Regions from separate parts of the Homo sapiens genome. Here region 2 is linked to region 1. A link means that fine-mapping ties the variant in region 1 to the expression of a gene that starts in the linked region. Tissue or cell type: whole blood. Region 1 holds a variant in brackets; the other region holds the start of a gene. All regions are shown on one strand. Distances are from middle to middle.

The links. PIP is the estimated chance that this variant, and not a neighbour inherited with it, causes the effect.
Region 2: KRT10 starts here. The variant in region 1 is fine-mapped to the expression of KRT10 in whole blood (TOPMed, PIP above 0.99).

What each region holds. Positions count from the first base shown.
Region 1 is chr17:40,846,237-40,851,455 of GRCh38, forward strand. LOC105371777 (a long non-coding RNA gene) reads left to right here and starts at 4,562. Exons shown (of 3, transcript XR_934754.3): 1 at 4,562-4,624. The variant C/T (reference allele first, on the strand shown) is at 2,267.
Region 2 is chr17:40,819,881-40,825,015 of GRCh38, forward strand. KRT10 (keratin 10) reads right to left here and starts at 2,734. Exons shown (of 8, transcript NM_000421.5): 1 at 2,079-2,734; 2 at 1,155-1,237; 3 at 631-787; 4 at 382-543; 5 at 169-294. The coding sequence starts at 2,705. All of the region lies in intron 1 of KRT10-AS1 (KRT10 antisense RNA 1), which reads left to right. RefSeq lists an enhancer at 1-974.

The sequences.
Region 1 (5,219 bases):
TTAGAGGTATTTCAGAAATGTTTCCTCTGGGAAATAAAGAAAAAGAGGGCCAGGCGCGGTGGCTCATGCCTGTAATTCCAACACTTTGGGAGGCCGAGGTGGGCGGATCACTTGGGGTTGGGAGTTCAAGACCAGCCTGGCCAACATGGAGAAACCCTGTCTCTTGTAAAAATACAAAATTAGCTGGGCGTGGTGGCACATGCCTGTAATCCCAGCTACTTGGGAGGCTGAGGCAGGAGAATCGCTTGAACCCGGGAGGTGGAGGTTGCAGTGAGCCAAGATCATGCCATTGCACTCCAGCCTGGGCAACAAGAACAAAACTCCATCTCAAAAAAAAAAAAAAAAAAAAAAAAGAGAGAGAAAGAGAACACTCAGGGAGCCAATAAGCCAGATAGCACAGGTAGGTACCTGGAAGGAGAGAGAAATCAGAAATAAGAGTGGTTCAAGACACAGTTCAAGAGCTCACATCAGTAATATAGGAAACCATCTGTTGAATGAGCCATTTAAACTGTATCATAGGGAACTTAGCATAAAGAACAGGCATGTGGTATAATTAAAAATGACTGAAAAAATTCTGCATTTTAGAAGCATCATTGTGGCGAATGTGCAGGAAAGTGAGTGCTCAGGAAGTTGGCCTTAGACAGCTGGAAAGATATGTCCTTCATTGCCAGTAAACTGGCATTCTAATGTGCACATCAGCATTGTGTGAATACAGTCACTGTAAGTCTATCATCAAGTGTCAGGTTACCTCTGGGCATGGTGAAGTCTAGTTTCTGGACCTGCAGGGCTATGAGGAACAGATTCTGGACTGTGGTAAGTTTTTTGAAGTAATTCAAATTTATATTAAATTTGTATTTTAAAAAACCCTTTTGATAATCAATCTAGTCTTGTGGGCAGCTTTTCATTTGCTTCATGATATATTCCTGTACCCTCCATGAGTGGTGTTAGGAAAAATGGCAGTAAGTATTACTTTTAACAGTTAGTTGGTAGAATAATTTACTCACCGTATTCACTAAAAAGCTGATGATTACAAATAGAAAAATAGTTTTAGGAAATGTGGAGCTTAGAGAGAACAAACACAAGTCATTCTTGCTGCCACTCTCCTGTACTCATGTCAGACATTACTAATTGATAACACATCTTCCTGCTGAACCCAGACTGGCTGGAGAATTATTCTTAATAAAATTAATCCAGGAAGCCCACAACCAATTGCCTGAATTGAGCCATGTGAATAAAAACTCTGCCCTTTCTTTCTTTGTTTTTTTTTTTTTTTGAGATGGAGTCTCGCTCTGTCGCCCAGGCTGGAGTGCAGTGGTGCAATCTCAGCTCACTGTAACCTCTGTCTCCCGGGTTCAAGCAATTCTCCTGCCTCAGCCTCCCAAGTAGCTGGGACTACAGGCATGTGCCACCACGCCCAGCTAATTTTTGTATTTTTAGTAGAGATGGGGTTTCACCATATTGGCCAGGATGGTCTCAATCTCTTGACCTTGTGATCTGCCTGCCTCAGCCTCCCAAAGTGCTGGGATTACAGGCGTGAGCCACCGTACCCGGCCCCAAAACTCTGCCCTTTCTAGTGTAAATGAGTTGCTAGGAATTCTGGTCATCAAAATTACAGAATTCAGCTGGAAAGAACCTAAAGTATGATTTATCTTTTGAATTTAATGTCATGGGGGAAGCTAAATATGCTCTTTGGCCAAAAGTCTGTGGATATTCTGACAGAAATAATACCAGACTGGATAAATAGACAAATTATCAGGATAGAATTATCTAGACCAATAATACATTCACTGTTATAGCTTCAACCAGAACAGAATTTGCAAAGGATATTAGAGGTCATTGCCAGGCTTCACCTTCCAGCATTGCCTGTTACAGGGTGTATGGTAAATTGCTTAATCTCTTTTAATCTTCACGTGAGAAATAATATCCAATTCATAAATCTGAGAATACCAATTTAGATAACACATACAAAGTGTTCTTCTACAAAGTGTTCTACACAGTGGGTACTCATAGACATCTGTCCTTTCTTTCTTCTCTTGTTAAATATTCAACACTAAACGGAACCCCTTATCAGATATCTCCAATCTCTACTAAAATATTTCTAGTGATGAGAAACTCATTGTCTCATGAAGCACTTCACCTTCCTTTGAAGTGCTCTAATTATTAAAAAGCTTATCTTTCTATTTAACTGAAATCTGCCACACAGAATATAGCTTTGCTGATGGAGAATCTTTTGGGTATTTGACAAGATTACTCTGTGTTTCTAAGT[C/T]TTTTATTTTCCAGGTTATGGATCACCAGTTCATTCAACTGTTCCTTAGATGACGTGGTTTTCAATTCCATTATCATGTAGGTTGCCTTAACTTGGATCACTTCTAAATCTGTAGGATTAATCTGACCTCTCTTTTTCTGTTTCTAGTATTAGCTTAGGGAATATTTTTTAAGGAATGCCTGCTAACTGTGTTTTATCCCATTGCACTTGATCACCAGCATAATGCTACTTCCAAAGATATAACACAGAATTTATTGTTTTCATATGTAAATTTATAGAAACTATTTAAATTTAATAATTAATTATTAGTAACCTATAACCCCCCCCCCCCCCTCACCACTCCTTGGTTTCAGGGTTTGGTTTCAGGGTGGCTCAGGTGTCTTGAACACATTTGTAATGGAAACTTGATAAACTCCTATTTTGGGTTCACCCTCTTTTCTTGGGTGTGGGGCCAAAGTTTGTCACTTAGATTAACTAGTTGGCTTGCAAGCTATAATTATCTTCCTCCTCCAATTAAAATCACATTTCTGTATTGCCACATCTAGTTATTGCAAAATCTAGCAATACACCTTGGATTCTTATTTCCCTCTAAGCAGACTTTCCCTGACGATTCATATTTTTTCTTCTGGGTTGTTCAACTCTTAGGTATTGCTCTTGTCCCACTGCTGAGTAGGACATTGTTTCCAACAAAGATTGATCATTGGGTAATTTACAATATTGTTGGTTTTGTTTTTCTGTGTCTCATTTGCTGTATTAGAATGATTAACACACATTATTATATTATTATTTCTAGATTTGATTAATAGAATTTTGGGTGACTCATATACTCCAGCTATACCTATGTGACAGCATAATTGGATCCAAAATGAAAAATTCAATCAACATAGGGTTTTATTTTTAATTGTGCCAAATGAAAGGCTTAATTAATAATTTTCATTGGATTTTAGCTAATCCGTTTACCGGAATTTTTCAATCATGTGTTATGAATGTATAAACCTAATGTGATATTTCTAAACATCATTTCAACCTACATGTATTTGGCATGCCCACATTTTCTGCCAGATGCTGCATTAAGTACTGGGGACTTATTTCTGGATGGCCAATAATACCTGGCCCAGCCTTTGAGGAGGAATAAGATACAAAAATTCGTCTTCTAAAAAGGAAGTGCAGACTACCTGGGTCAAGGAACTTATGGTTCTCAGCTGGTGTGATGATTACTTAGTTTTATGGGAAAACACTCCAGAGGACACGCTCTTTGGTCCTATTCTTGCCAATCCACTCCCATTTAATACCATATGTTGAAATTTTATGTACTCCTCAAGGCTCTGCTCAGATGCCTTTCTGCTGTAAAGAGTGGTCCTCATATCCCAGCCCTTTATATTACCTCCCTTTTCCAAACTTCTGTGGCAGGTCACTTTATACCTGGCGAGGCAAGGTTATTTGCATACCTGACTAGTCCGCTCCCATTTGCTTCCATAGTGACCAGTAAATATTAGTTTGATTGAGAGAAAAGTGTATTTTACTTATTTTTAATTTTTATTCCTAACTGCTAGACCACCAAAGAGAGAGAGCACAATGTTTTTTAGATAGAACACCTCGTTATTAAGGGAGAACAAGTTCTATTTTGATCTAGATTGGCAGGAGTATTACATTTTCAGACTGAATATTTTCATGGAAAGCCAGTGTTCCATCAGCCATTTTAAGATAACTCAGTTTTGTATCTATGGTTAGGCGATTGCCTACATACAAAGCACACTTTAATGACGAATTAGAGGATTCCAAGCTTGCCTTTATAAGTGAATATCTACAGATTTTTTTTTCTTATAAATACTACATGGAAACCAAGTTACTCTATGTTTTGAAAGCAACTTCTAGTACTCTTTAGATGTATGGGAAAAAGTCCTCAGGTTAATTTCCTTAAGAAAAAGCGTCATGAATTAAAAGACTGCTTGTTGAAACTGAAGATCACTTTCTACTGAGTCACCAGATATTGAGCAATATGATTTATATCAATATGCCTTGTGAAATTGTCAAGTTAAAGATTGTACATATTAGATAAGAAAATTTTGTGTCCCTATAGAGTGACAAGTATCTTGAGGGTTTTCTGGAAATATTGAATTCAACAAATATCTCAGTAAAATGCAAACAACTTCTTGATGGATTTTTTAGTCTCAAACAGCCAGCCTAATTCCTTTATTAAGATTTAAGGAGAAGGAAGTAAGTGGAATTCAATTTCATATGACGCAAGCATATTTTAAATAGAGTAACCAAAACAAATAGATTCAAATGGAATCTATGCAAACCATCCTCTTTGCTTCCTTTGTGATGGACACTCCTTAGCTTCTGCGCCTTAATAAGGTAGGGTTTGTTCATTCAGTCTTTCCAAAGATAAGTGTTGGAAAATTTAGAGTTAATAAATCAGTGGATAAAAATTCAATGACTATTTCAAGAAAATAATAGAAGAAATATATCGCCACCATTCAATGTTTGTGCAACCAGTGTTTATTGAGTGCTTTTAATGGTACCTAGAGAGTAATACAGGTGGTCAAGCACAGTGGCTTATACCTGTAATCCAAGAACTTTGGGAGGCTGAGGTGGACAGATTGCTTGAGCCCAGGAGAGTAATACAGGCATTATTCCAGCTTTTACTGAGTGAATATTCTAGCATTTGTACGTAATTCTGTGCACAGGTATTCAACAAGTATTGATTGTCTCCTATGCAGTAGGGTATATGTGCTGTTTTATGCACTGTGCTAGATGCCAGGGCTACAGTGGAGGGCAAAACAGACATGGCCGCTGCCCTTAGAGAGAATGCAGTGGTAGAGCCAGACATTATTTCAATATTCATACAAATAAATGTATAATTGCAAATTGCGCTAAGAGCTGTGAAGGATAACTACAGTATAGTATGAGAAGGTAGAATAGGAGAACCTGACTTGGTTAATGAGGGGCA
Region 2 (5,135 bases), 26 kb before region 1:
GCACTTTTAGATCAACACTAGTAGTACTTTTCCTCCATTAACATGAGCTTCACTTTGTTTTCTCTTTCTTACCTCCAACTCTGCATTTTTTTGTTGCATTGCATATTCTTAGGTGAGCATGAAACTTTGTATGATAAAGTTGAAGTCATTTCATGAGAGTTAACATACCAAGGCCAGTTGGGACTGTAGTTCTATCTCCAGAGCTTGTACATTACGTCTCAATTCAGTAATCTCAGATTTATAGCTGGATATCTGTTCAATGTTATTATCAATTTCTGTAGTCAGTTCCTTGCTCTAGAGTATTAAAAACAAGGAAAAGGGTGAGGAAATTCTGAAATGATAAAACCTCCATGAGTTTCACTATAAGGAAGATTACTTTACCTTTTCATTGAACCAGGCTTCAGCATCTTTGCGGTTTTGTTCAGCAAGTTGTTCATATTGGCTTCTCATGTTATTCAGAAGTTGAGTCAGATCAACACCCGGGGCAGCATTCATTTCCACATTCACATCACCAGTGGACACATTTCGAAGGTCTTTCATTTCCTGTTTGAGGAACAGAAAGATTTATTGGCTACACGAGGACCATAATGAACTCTCTTTTGGCTGGGAAAAGTATAACTTTTGTGTCACCTCCTCGTGGTTCTTCTTCAGATAGGCCAGCTCTTCAGTCAGGCTCTCAATTTGCATCTCCAGGTCAGCCTTGGTCAGGGTCAGCTCATCCAGCACCCTACGCAGGCCGTTGATGTCAGCCTCCACGCTCTGGCGCAGAGCTACCTCATTCTCATACCTGAAACAAGCATGATATCAATACTGGTTATAACTTATATAGGGGAGATGTATCTGGGCAGAGACTATTTAAAAAGCAGCTACATAGTTGATCTCATGTAATGGCAATATTTGTCATGTACAGTTCTCTTAGAAGTAATAGTGGTTTAATGGAAAAAACCTTAGCAGTTACTTTAAAATGCATTTTCTTCCTTTAATATTGCCAAAAAGGTAACACTGACATGGAAAATTTCTCAGATAACTCCAATACTATTTAACTTTGGGTGAATTCAGAAAAATGTAAATGTTATTGAGGGCATCCCAAGTCATTGTTAAAAACCACTGATGTATTCGTTGTGATAGTATTATACAACGATCACTTAACTTACTTCAGCCTGAAGTCATCAGCTGCCAGCCTGGCATTGTCGATCTGAAGCAGGATGTTGGCATTATCAGTTGTTAGGTTGAGAATCTGGAGGGAGAGGCACAGTTATTTGAGAAGAGGTCAGATGCAGATATGGCTTTTGTAGTGACATAGATGCACTCTGCACTTTTATGTTGTTCTCTTACAAAATCTTGGGAAAATTTTTTATTTTAAATATGAAATATTGCAGGCTTACCCATATACTTAACTTTGAATTATTTGTTCTCTTGGAATTTCTCCAGTCTTGTATTTCTGTACACGAATTATTCCTTTCTGAAAACTAACTGGAATTATATAGATGTATTCCTGTAAGTGTGCCCTCCTCTTTTAGACTATGTGATTTCCATGTATTTCAGCCATGCTTTGGCTGACTCACACCTGCATTTGTTTAACTCATGATAAATACTAATAAATAAATACACTCTGAACTGGTACACAATAGGTACAATTCAGAAATTCCTTAGAGGCAAGCAGTGTCCCATTTTCATACTGGAAAATTTATTTTTCTTGCCATGTTGGTACTGAATATGGCTTGTTATCAGTCTGAATAACATTTTGTTCTGATTCATATCATGATTTTTTTTTTCAGTTTCTACATTTGTAAATAGCCTAGCATATTTTAACTGTGGACTCATTGTATGCTCATTAAAACCTCAAAAGTGCTTAGTAAATCTCCCATCCTCTTAAGACAAGTAGCACACTTGCTGGATGAAGATTGCCATGACCATAGTTTCACAGATGTTTATCTTTGATGAGACTGGGTTATTTTTGAAGGAAGAAAGTAACATGGGTAAGCATAGTGAACAGCCACATTGTGCTTAATTTAAGATTCATCTGTCTGGATTACATGGACAAGATACTTAAAGCTGGATTTAAAAATACCTCTTACCTGATTTTTAAGGTCATCGATGGTTTTGTAGTATTTGCTGTAGTCACGAGGCTCCCCCTGATGTGAGTTGCCATGCTTTTCATACCACTCCTTGATTTTGCCTTCCAGCTCATAGTTTGATTCTTCCAGAGCCCGAACTTTGTCCAAGTAGGAAGCCAGGCGGTCATTCAGATTCTGCATGGTTACTTTTTCATTTCCAGAGAGAAGGCCACCATCTCCTCCAAATCCACCACCAAAGCCTCCTCCAAAGCCGCCTCCACCAAAGCCGCCTCCACCAAAGCTGCCCCCACCAAAGCTGCCACCTCCGAAACTGCCCCCTCCAAAGATGCCTCCATAACTCCCACCAAAGCTGCTACTTCCATAGCTTCCACGAAAGCTACCTCCACCAAAACCTCCTAATCCTCCATAGCCACCTGATGAGCCCCCAAAGCAGCCCCCACCAGAGCTCCCACGGCTAAAAGAGCCACCACTGAACCCCCCTGAGCTAAATCCTCCACCAAGGGAGCCTTTGCTGCTAGAAATTCTTAGGGATGACACTCCTCCTCCTCCTCCACATCCTCCTCCTCCTCCTCCTCCTCCACTGCGGGAGGAAGAGTAGTGCTTGCTTGAGCTGTATCGAACAGACATGGTGATGCTGTTTAGCCCAGGGAGTGCCTGCTACCAAGGACAGTGACAAGCCTTTATATACTGAGAGGGTGTGTCCACATGTGTTAGAGTTTGCTTACTTACATTGTTTTCTTTTTGCCAACTTAGCATCTTTGGCTTATGATTGCATAAATTATCTTCAGTAATAACCAATCCTAATATGTACAATTTTGAATTTGCCCTAAGAATAAACAGGAGGTTTGCTATGTTGAAATTGAAAATGGGTGGAGTTCAGATGAGCATGTTTTATTATGCTTTTCACCTGTTGAAGAACATTGAGCAACCGTTAAGATCCATTTTTCTCAGCACTAATTCAGGTTGCATAGAATGTTTGCAAAGTTTAGAAAAAAAAGTTTCAGCTACAAAATTATAGTTAAAATAAGATTTTTCAAATTCATGTTTTAAACAGTTTTAATTGGAGCAACAAATAGCATAAAGTCTGGCAGGATCATGCTACAATAAGGTTCTTGTAGACAACTGTAGGGAATCAAAAAGAAAAAGTTTCTAAAAATTTAACTAGCATCAATAGTTGCCACACATAAAACATTAAAGCCATAAAACCACAATTTAGGAGATTGTGTTTGTAGGAGATCTTTTAATTTATTTGGCAAATGAGAGTATATTGATATTTTGCCTAAGAAAGTGGAAGTAATGATTTTAGAATTTTCTAATTAATGATGGCATTATTTTTAACATTAAAAAATCTGAAATCATAAAGTTATCCTGGATTATTTTGCACTTTTAAATTCATCATAGTTAAGGTTTCTGTGAAGACCATAATAATGCAGAAAATCTGCATTATTTTCTTAGCATGAAATCCGAAGAACTAACTTGTAGTACTTTACACTAAGTTCTGATTGAGTAAAAAGGGAAAATTTGGATATGTTATGATTGCAAGTAAAAATTTGCTTGCAAAAATGTAAATCTATATTAGAGAATGATACTTGCACCAAATATTATGAACTAGACTGTGCACATGTGTTCCCAAGCTAGGTTCAGTTTCTCAATAAAAACAACACATTTTCTTGGATATACTGTGTACAGAATTTGGTATAACAGTTTGTCTAGTGAAGTAAATTGGGATTTTGGTACATTGTATAAGATTATATCTACCCATAGGCTATGACATTGCTGTTGTTTGGATGTATATATTCATACATGTTTTACAATTATGTAGTGCTGTTTGTGATACTGTGCTTTAAAAATTTCTAGAACAAGCTGTTGAGATAGGAATGGTGGTTATTATTATTTCTTTTCTTTCTTTCTTTCTTTCTTTCTTTTTTTTTTTTTAGACGGAGGCTTGCTCTGTCGCCCAGGCTGGAGTGCAGTGGCGCCATCTCGGCTCACTGCAAGCTCCACCTCCCGGGTTCACGCCATTCTCCTGCCTCAGCCTCCCGAGTAGCTGGGGCTACAGGTGTGTGCCACCATACCTGGCTAATTTTTTGTCTTTTTGGTAGAGACAGGGTTTCATCATGTTAGCCAGGATGGTCTCAATCTCCTGACCTCTTGATCTGCCTGCCTTGGCCTCCCAAAGTGCTGGGGTTACAGGTGTGGTTATTGTTATTTCTAATTTATAGAAGAGGAAGTTGAAGTTGAGAGGTTGTGATTTTTTCCTGAAGATATGTAACAGGTGGTTGAACTGCAATTAGAAGCTTGGTCTTTTAACTCCTTGGTTCTTTTCCACTTTACCAATGTGTATATATATTATCTGCTCCAGTGGATTTGGTCTAATGGAGATGAATGACTCTAATTCTCACCGTAAACTTCTCCAAATGGGGAAAAAGAGCAAAACAAAAAGAACTTAGAATCATGAAAATATTCAAAGGGTAATGATTTGGCACACACTCTACCTTTAGTAATTGTTTTTTCAAATTAAGTTTATTGCTGCACATTTTGGTTTATGAAAACTACAGAAATAGTTTCTGTAGGGAAGGGAGTGTGGTTGGGAGCATTAATCAAATGTTGATTGTTAAAGTGGAGGTTACTACCCAGCAGATTGCAACTCTTCCAACTTGTTAGCACATGCAAATGGGGCAGTAGTTAAAAGAAAAACTGAAACCCAACCATGGGAATTGATTCTTGATGAAGATAACCTACAGTTAAAGAAGGCTATGATAAATCAGGATAGGAAAAGAAAAAACTCCAATAACTTCAGAGAACATGTTGAAACCTTGATATTAATGAAATCTTTTTGGAAAGAAACATTTTAATTAAAAAGATATTTTGATTGATTTTACCTGTAATTAGCACAAGTTTTGGATCTTAGTATTACCAATTTTGTTTTAGTATTAGCCTATAATTTCTCCCCCCAGTGGAAAATATAAAAATCCCAGTCTCCTTTCAGTTAATTAACAAGTGGTATGAAGAGAGCTCTGTTACAATCATATTAAACCAAAGAATATATGAAAGGGA